2 linked regions of the Homo sapiens genome follow. The protein of the gene in region 1 interacts with the protein of each later gene in a pairwise test. Each region holds a gene or a part of one and is shown in the gene's direction. Other genes may lie near its edges.

The links.
Region 2: the proteins of DACT3 (region 1) and SESTD1 interact in a two-hybrid assay, tested with the Homo sapiens proteins (one large-scale study listed by BioGRID).

The regions. Positions count from the first base shown.
Region 1 is NC_000019.10:46,658,072-46,662,313, reverse strand, and holds the start of DACT3 (dapper homolog 3), read left to right. Parts: upstream 1-1,131; 5' UTR 1,132-1,249; coding exon 1,250-1,498; intron 1,499-1,905; exon of another isoform or gene 1,906-1,950; intron 1,951-2,633; exon of another isoform or gene 2,634-3,351; intron 3,352-3,363; exon of another isoform or gene 3,364-3,504; coding exon of another isoform or gene 3,505-3,549; intron 3,550-4,242. UniProt on the Homo sapiens protein: May be involved in regulation of intracellular signaling pathways during development. Specifically thought to play a role in canonical and/or non-canonical Wnt signaling pathways through interaction with DSH (Dishevelled) family proteins.
Region 2 is NC_000002.12:179,258,228-179,262,038, reverse strand, and holds part of SESTD1 (SEC14 domain and spectrin repeat-containing protein 1), read left to right. Parts: intron 1-3,811. UniProt on the Homo sapiens protein: May act as the primary docking protein directing membrane turnover and assembly of the transient receptor potential channels TRPC4 and TRPC5.

The DNA.
Region 1 (4,242 bases):
TTCTGGGCCTTGGCTTTTAGGGAGCCAAGGTCTGTCTGAGAGATGAGTATGAATATTAGAGCTAGGTCTTGGAAGTTGGTAGAGGCAGGCTCGGCGTAGTGATACAGATTGGCCGCCTGAGGGTGCCCCAGCCCTGCTTGCGGAGCCTGGAGAGACAGCAGGAAGCCTTGGAAACGAATGTCAGGCTCAGACTCCTAGGACCAGAGAACGTTGAGAATAGAGCATCATAGAAGGCTGAGAACAAAGCCCCTTAGAACGTAGAACAAAGGCCCCTGGAATGGAAGAATGATGAGCACACATCCTCCTAGCACCTGGGAGACAAAAGCTGCTTAGACTCTCTTCTGGTCAAAGCATAGAATCTTCCACCCAGGGTCTTATAATTCCAGAATTTGGAATGCAATCGATCTTAGACTCTTAGCAGCAAGACCGGCTACATATTTGGCCTAGTGCAAAGTGAAAATAAGGGGCCCCTTGCTCAAAAACTAAAAATTTCAAGACAGAAATTGCAGAACATTCAACCAAGCGCGAAGACCCTTCTAAGTGGATTCCAAGCCGGTGAAGCCGGCCCTAAGTAGAAACAATTTCATCGGAGGACGTCCGTCTGGTTTTACAGCTGAGTGTCTGGGAAGGCTTCTTGGAAGAGGAGGCGAAGTCAGGGCTCGACCCCCTAACCCTTTTCTCCCCCTGCGCAGCCTCAGAAGCTGAAGGTTGGGCGGGGTGGAGGGGTAGGAGCAGCTGCCAAACTGTCACGTGTACCCATTCCCTATTTATAGATCACCCTTCCCCTCGCGCCGGACAGTCCAATGGTAGCCAGCGCTCGCCCGCAAGAGGGTGGAACCTGCTGCAGGACCGGCCAGGCACAGACCAATGGCATTGAAGCAAGGGCGGGCTTGTTTCATTGTGACGCGTGGGGGGGCGTGGCCAGGGCCCCGAGGCAGTTGCACGGAGGGGGCGTGGCGAGCGGAGTGAGTAGGCAGTTGCGAGCATGCGTCGTGTTGGGCGGTGCGGTTGCACGCCCGAGAGTCTTCGTCAGGAAGCTTATTCGCCAATAGGCGGCTGTTGCTCGGTCGCCGGGGGCGTGGCCATGCAGATAAGGCGCGGGTGGGCGGCCCAATGGGCGGGCGCCTATGCAGATGAGACGGTGACAGCCCGGCCAGCGGGCGGGCGGGCAGGCTGCTGGGGCGGGGAGGTGGGACCGGGAGAGGGGTGGCCGCGGGGCCCGGCCGGGCTGGGGCGGGGGGCCGCAGCCATGATCCGGGCCTTCTCGTTCCCGGTGAGCCCTGAGCGGGGCCGGCTGCGGGGCTGGCTGGAGGGTAGCCTGGCCGGGCTCTGCGAGTTACATTGGCTCCGGGAGAGGCAGGAGTACCGCGTGCAGCAGGCGCTGCGGCTGGCCCAGCCCGGAATGGGGGGCGCCGAGGCCGAGGACGAGGAGGACGCCGATGAGGATGAAGATGCGGCGGCGGCGCGCCGGGCCGCAGCGGCCCTGGAGGAGCAGCTGGTAAGGGGCTGCCTGTCCGTCCGTCCCTCCACCCCCGTCTGTGTCTGTCTGTCTCGGTTGGATGCTCAGACACCGGGCGGGGGTTGGGGACCCGGGTAGGCAGGGAGTGAGAAAGGACAGGGGGTGGGGCTGGCGACCCCGGAGTTCCGGCGGCGGGCCGGACCTGGCCTCCCCGCCCCCAAATCGGGGGAGGGGGAACTGCATCGCCCCCACTGGGGCCTCGTGAGAAACACAGGCCCTGTCTCTTACACCCCTTCCCCAAAGAAAATCCTTGTGGGCGCCAAGTATGTGTCAAACCCGAGACCGGGTACTTTGCAGGCGTTGTCTTCTTGCGGCTTGGGAAACGGGGTGATAGTCCCCATTTAACAGAGAAACAAATTGAGGCTCAGAGAGAGCAAGCGACTCACCCAAGGTGACACAGCCAGGCTCCAAACATGCCCTTCTCTGGGCCCCGCCACCAGGGCTCCATCTTCCCTAAGTCCTGGTGTGCTTGGAGATCTCTGGAGGGGGCGGGGTGGGAGGAGGGGAATCTCAGGGCCTCCAGAGGGAGGGACCACTGCTGAGAGGAAGCTCACAGTCCCTGAGGACCCCCCACTGGGATCTTGACCCTTTGGTGACACTTCCCCTGCTTCCTACCTGGCCCCAGCTCTCCTTGACCCAAGGGGAGGCAGGTCGAGGCAGCGCCTGGGGGAGACTTCTGGACTCTGGGTGTTCTCATGGTGGAAGATGGGCAGAGGTCTCCGGAATGACTTGAGGACGCCCCATGCCTCTCCCCTTTCTATGTCATTCCTTGAGTCTCCCGATCTCGTCCTGGGTTCTGTCACTCTCTCCGTCCTGCCACATCCCTGTGACTTTCTGTGTCTGCTTCTCTTTCTTCATCCTGTCTCTCTGTCTCTGTGATCTCTGTGTCCCTCTGCATCTGTCTCCTTGGCCTTCCCTTCCTGCCTGTCTGCACCTCGCTCTCTTCTTCTTGCCCGACGTCCCAGGCTCAGTCTGTCTTCCCCTCCCCCCAGCCCGCACACCCTGGCTCCACGGCAGATCCCCATCCCCAAGCCTGTGTGTGGCCAGAGCTTCCCGTTTCGGGAAACCTGAGCCGAGGTGGCAGTGGAGGGGGCTCTCCCCGCCGCTGACCTCGACCGCCCCCTCCCCAGATGGGGAGTGGGGAGGAAGACTGAAGCCAGGCTCCCGGGGCTGCACGCCCGGCCCCTCCCCCTCTCAGGAGTGGGACCCCCCTGCACATTCTTTTCTGGAAACAGAAACAGCTGTGGGAGGCCCCACCCCCTCCCAAAGTTAGAGACGGATTGTGGGGGCCTTCGCTAGCTCCCCCCACCCCAAGCTGGCTCGGCTTGGAAGGCGCCTTCCATCCTGACAAGGAGAATGCGAGGCATGAGGTTGGGGTAGCTGTGGGTAGCTGTGTCCTCTCCCCCTCTGCCCTCGGTCTCTCCCCTTTTCACCCTTCACCTTCCCCATCTCTGCCCTTCAGTCTCCCTCTCCTCGGTCCCTCTGTCCCCTCCTCCCCCTCAGCCCTCTGTCCTCCCGGCACGAGCTGATAGTGGAGAGGCCTGTCCCCCCACCCCCCAGTCTCTAGGCAAAGCTTGTCCCAGCATCAGGGAGGAGGCGGTGGCAGGCGGGGGGAGGAGGAGGAGCAGAGAAGCGCTAAATATAAACTTCTCTAGTGCTGGGGGTTCCTGGGTCCCTCTGAAGAGTGGATTAGGGCTTCTTCTGATCCCCCAACCCTTGTCTTATGACTTATCCCCCCACCCCCAGCCCCTGCCAGGAATACACTTCCTTCAAGGCAAGAAAGACTGAAGCCAGACTTGATTACTTTCTAATAGGAATGATGGGGATACCAGGTAAAGATCAGGGGTGTGGCAGAGAAGAGAGGCAGGAATCCTGGGTGAGGGCAGGGGCTCCCTGGGTCCTGCTTGCTCTCAAGAAGGAAAAAGGTTCCTTTCATCAAGAATAACTTAAGTTAGACTTGCAGAATGACTTCCTAATAGAGATAAATGGGCACTGGATACCAACGAGGGGCACGTGAGGGGAGAAACAAGGTAAGGGAAGTTTGGGCAAAGGGGTCTCCAGGGGTCCTAACCACACTCTTATTAAGCCTGCAGAGGAAGGATGAGGGGCACCGTGAGGAGGCAGAGAGCCAGACTCAGGCCAAGGACTTTCTAATCTTTTAAAGATTCATCCTTTTGCAACTGGAAGGAATGAGGCCAGACTTGCAAATAGAGGGGTGTAGACTTGGAATATTTTTGGGGGGCGTCTAGGTGCTGGAGAGGAGGAGGCATCTCCTGTCTGTCTCCCTAATTTCTGCTCTTCCTTGTAATGGAAGAACCGGAATTAGACTTGGCAGAACTTACCAAAAAGTCTATCCTTTCACGTTTATTTATGTATTTTTAAATGATATATTTATTTATTCATTTATTTTTGGAGACAAAGTCTCTCAGGCTGAAGTGCAGTGGCACGATCATAGCTCACTGCAGCCTCTAACTTGGCCTCAAGCAATCCTCCTGCCTCAGCCTCCCAAGAAGCTAGGACTACAGGTGCACACCGCCACATTTGGCTAATTTTTTTTTTTTTTTTAAAGATATGAGGTCTTGCTATGTTGTTCAGGCTGGTCTCCAACTCCTGGGCTCAAGCAATCCTTCTGTCTCAGCCTCTCAAAGCACTAGGATTGCAGGTGTGAGCTACTGTACCTGGCCTTTATTTATTTATTCATTGAGACAGAATCTTGCTCTGTC
Region 2 (3,811 bases), on another chromosome or scaffold:
ATGGCAGAATATTATTTTGTTATATGGCTATGCCACATTTTGTTTATCCAATCTTCAACTGATGGGCATTTGGGTTGTTTCTACTTTTTGGCCATAATAAATAATGTTGTGGATACTCATTTACAAGTTTTTGTATGGTATATATGCTTTCAATTTTCTTGGATGTATACCTAGATGTGTAATTGCTGGGTTATATGGTAATTCTGTTTACTTTCTGAGGAACTGCTTGACTGTTTTCCATAGCTGCTGCACTGTTTTACATTCCTTCTAGCAATGTAGGGTTCCATTTTCTAGGGTAACCCTTCTACATTGCTAGAAGGGTTACATTCCTTCTAGCAATGTAGGGTTATAGCAATGTAGCAATGAGGGTTCCATTTTCTCCACATCCTTGCCAACACTTGTTAATGTTTGTCTTTTTGATGATAGCCATCCTAGTGGCTGTGAAGTGATATCGCATTGTGATTTTCATTTGTATTTCATCTTATCATGTTTTTATTGGCCATTTGTATATAATTTTCTCATTTAATGTTTTAAATGATGCTGTAAGGTAGGTTTATTCCTATTTTACTGCCAGGAAACTAAAGTGCAAAGTTGTTTAATCATTTGCTTGTTTTTTTAACCTTACAGTTAATAAGAGGCAAGGTCTGAGTGTAAACTCAGGTCTTCTGACTCTACTTCCTGCACTCAATGAGGCATACAGAAATTAAATTGTGTTTGTGAATGTCTGGTTGATTAGTGACAAAGTGAGGGAAAAATAAAAAAAATCAAACCAAACAATAACAAACCATAAGGTGTTGTGGCAACACTGCCACATATTCATCAGATTTTATTACGCATTTTCAAATAAATTCCTTTTCTTCTGTCATAATAAGGTAGGTCTGCTTTCCACATTTCCAATGGGGAAACAGAGTCAGAGTGATTCAACCTAGTAACAGCTTCTTAATAGCATAGCCGATCCTAGAACCCACTGTTTCAGAATTTGAATAGTATGTATGTGTATATATATAGAGAGAGTAAAAGCTGAAAATCTCCCTTCACTTTTTGTCTTTTTCCCCTTCTTCACTCCTAAGACCACTTCCATCTTGGAGAAACTGCTGTTGACAGTTTGAGGTTTATATTTCCAAACCTGTATCTTTGCATTTATGTGTGTATTTATCTATAAATACACATTTCCATATTTTACCATACATACAGACATGTTTCTTTTCATAATGTTTTTTCTTTTACAAATGGGATTATACTACACATATTCCTTTGTTTTTCACTTAAATATGTTAAACTTTTCCATCTGTAATTACAAAGGATAAATCTAATATTATGTTTTCATTTAAGTTTGCTATCCATGCCTGGCTTCGGTGTCAAGATGAAGTCAGGATTAAGAATGATTAGGAAACTTTTCACTTTTTTCTGTGCTCTGGAACAGTTTAAAATATCTGCCCTTTAAACGTTTACTAGAAATCATCTGACAACTGTGGGGGCAGAGAGAGATCTGAGATGACCTTTCTAATTTTTTTTTTTCTTTTGAGACAGGGTCTCACTCTGTGGCCCAGGCTGAAGTGCAGTGGTGTGATCACACCTCACTGCAACCTCAACTGCCTGGGCTCAAGTCATTCACCCACCTCAGCCTCCCAGGTGGCTGAGAGTACAGGCATGTGCCACCATGCCCAGCTAATTTTTGCATTTTTTGTAGAGATGAAGTTTCTCAATGTTGCCAAGGCTGGTCTCAAACTCCTGAGCTCAAGCAATCTGCCTACGTTGGCCTTCTTAACATGAGCCATTGCACCTGGCCCGTTTTCTTATTTGTCAAATGACAATAACTCCTACCTCATAAGAGTCTTGAAATATTAAATGATATGTGAGCTAATATATGAAAAGGCTCAGTAGTTGCATCTAACAAAAATGAAAAAAATGTAATGAACTGTAACATGCTATACAAATGTAAATTTGTTACTACAGTTATTATAATTATGTTTTAACCTAATAGGAACAAATTTTTAAGTAGATAGGATGGTGGAGCTAGGGACAGTTTCCACTAATAAATCACAAGTATCTATAAAAATTCACAGGCCATTTGGGATTTGATTCTGGTAGACAATGGTATCTAAATACACTCTTTAAGAAGGATGGTAGGTAAAATCATTGACTAAACAGATCTGGATGAATCTTGTGTTGTCACTTGTTAGCCTTGTGACTGTGGACAAGTTAATTTCTTAGTAACATGAGATAACACTTATAGGGCAGTTATGAAGAAAGACATTAGTTTCTAGCATGTAATAGATGTTCAAAATAGTCAATTTTTTTTTTCTTTGCATGTAGTGAATACCCAACAGTGACAAACCTGAGATGTTGAGTTCTATTAATTTAAGGCTGCTTGGTGAGGTGGAAAGAACATTAAGCCCTAAGTCAGAAGTTTTGTTCTGTCCTATGTTTATTAGCCATTGGCTGTGGATGAGTCGCCTAAGTGCTTAGATCCTTCTGTTTTCCTTACCTATAAAAAAGCTAGAGAACTAAGGCTGGGTGCGGTGGCTCACACCTGTAATCCCAGCACTTTGAGAGGCTGAGGCAGGTGGATCACGAGGTCAGGAGTTCAAGACCAGCCTGGCCAAGATGGTGAAACCCCGTCTCTACTAAAAATACAAAAATTAGTCGGGTGTCGTGGGGGCACCTGTAATCCCAGCTACTCAGGAGGCTGAGGCAGAGAATTGCTTGAACCCGGGAGGTGGAGGTTGCAGTGAGCCGAGATCGCGCCACTGCACTCCAGCCTGGGCGACAGAGTGAGACTCTGTCTCAAAAACAAACAAACAAAAAGCTAGAGAACTAACACTAGGCACTTTACAACCTTATCTCATTTAATCTTTCCAATAATCCTATCAGATAGAGATGATTTCCATTTCCCTTTCTAATAGATAAAGAAACAAAGGTGCAGGAATTGGATTTTCCAAGGTCTACTTGGTGGACTCCCCCAGTCCTGGGAATATTCTTTGGCTCATTACAAGTATTCACTCCTGGGATGATAGGGCATGCCCCTATGTACAGGGAATACCAAGGGGGGAACCTACTATAAACTGAAATACTAAGTGTATGAATGAACTAAGCCAGTGTTGGATGAGACTACTTATTTATTAATGACTTCCATTAATAAAATACAAATAGAGGATTGTTAATGTGTCCCAATGCCAGTGCTTAAGAGTAGTAATTTAAGATGATACTTCATTTTCCCATAATCACCTTATCTAAATAATTTATTACCTACTCCTAATTTCATTTTCAGTTTGACCAGGTAAAGCACAGAAGTAAATTGTAAGTTAGTGGTCAGAGCTGGTTTGATAGTGGTGTGTGTGTGTGTGCATGCATGCACGTGCGTGTGCATGTGTGTGTGAGAGCTGAGAAGTACAGTTCTTCAGCAGCTTGGCATATGCAGAAACTGCACATTCTTGGAAAGAAGTAATCTGCGTTATAATTTAATTGCCTTCTAGTAGATTTGCAGAATCATTTAGAAAATGAACCTGCCTTTGTCAATTGGTTTGTAAAGACCTATTGATTATATTCTTGAAAGATAGTAATATTGTCTTTCCTTTAGTGGGTATTGCCAGAGCTTTTGCTTATGAGTTTCATTTTATTTGATCAGGTTCAGTGATATTGATTTGGTATCCTTGCATGCTTTGTGCTAGGGATGTATGAAACAAAATGCTTTTGAGAGGTCATGAATTGTGATTCAGTAATAGTTTAGAAAGTTTAGGAATTCTATCTATTGGGGCTTCAGTTAGCATGTTTTTGTAGTAGAAGTGGGAATTACTGAGTTTAGGTTAGA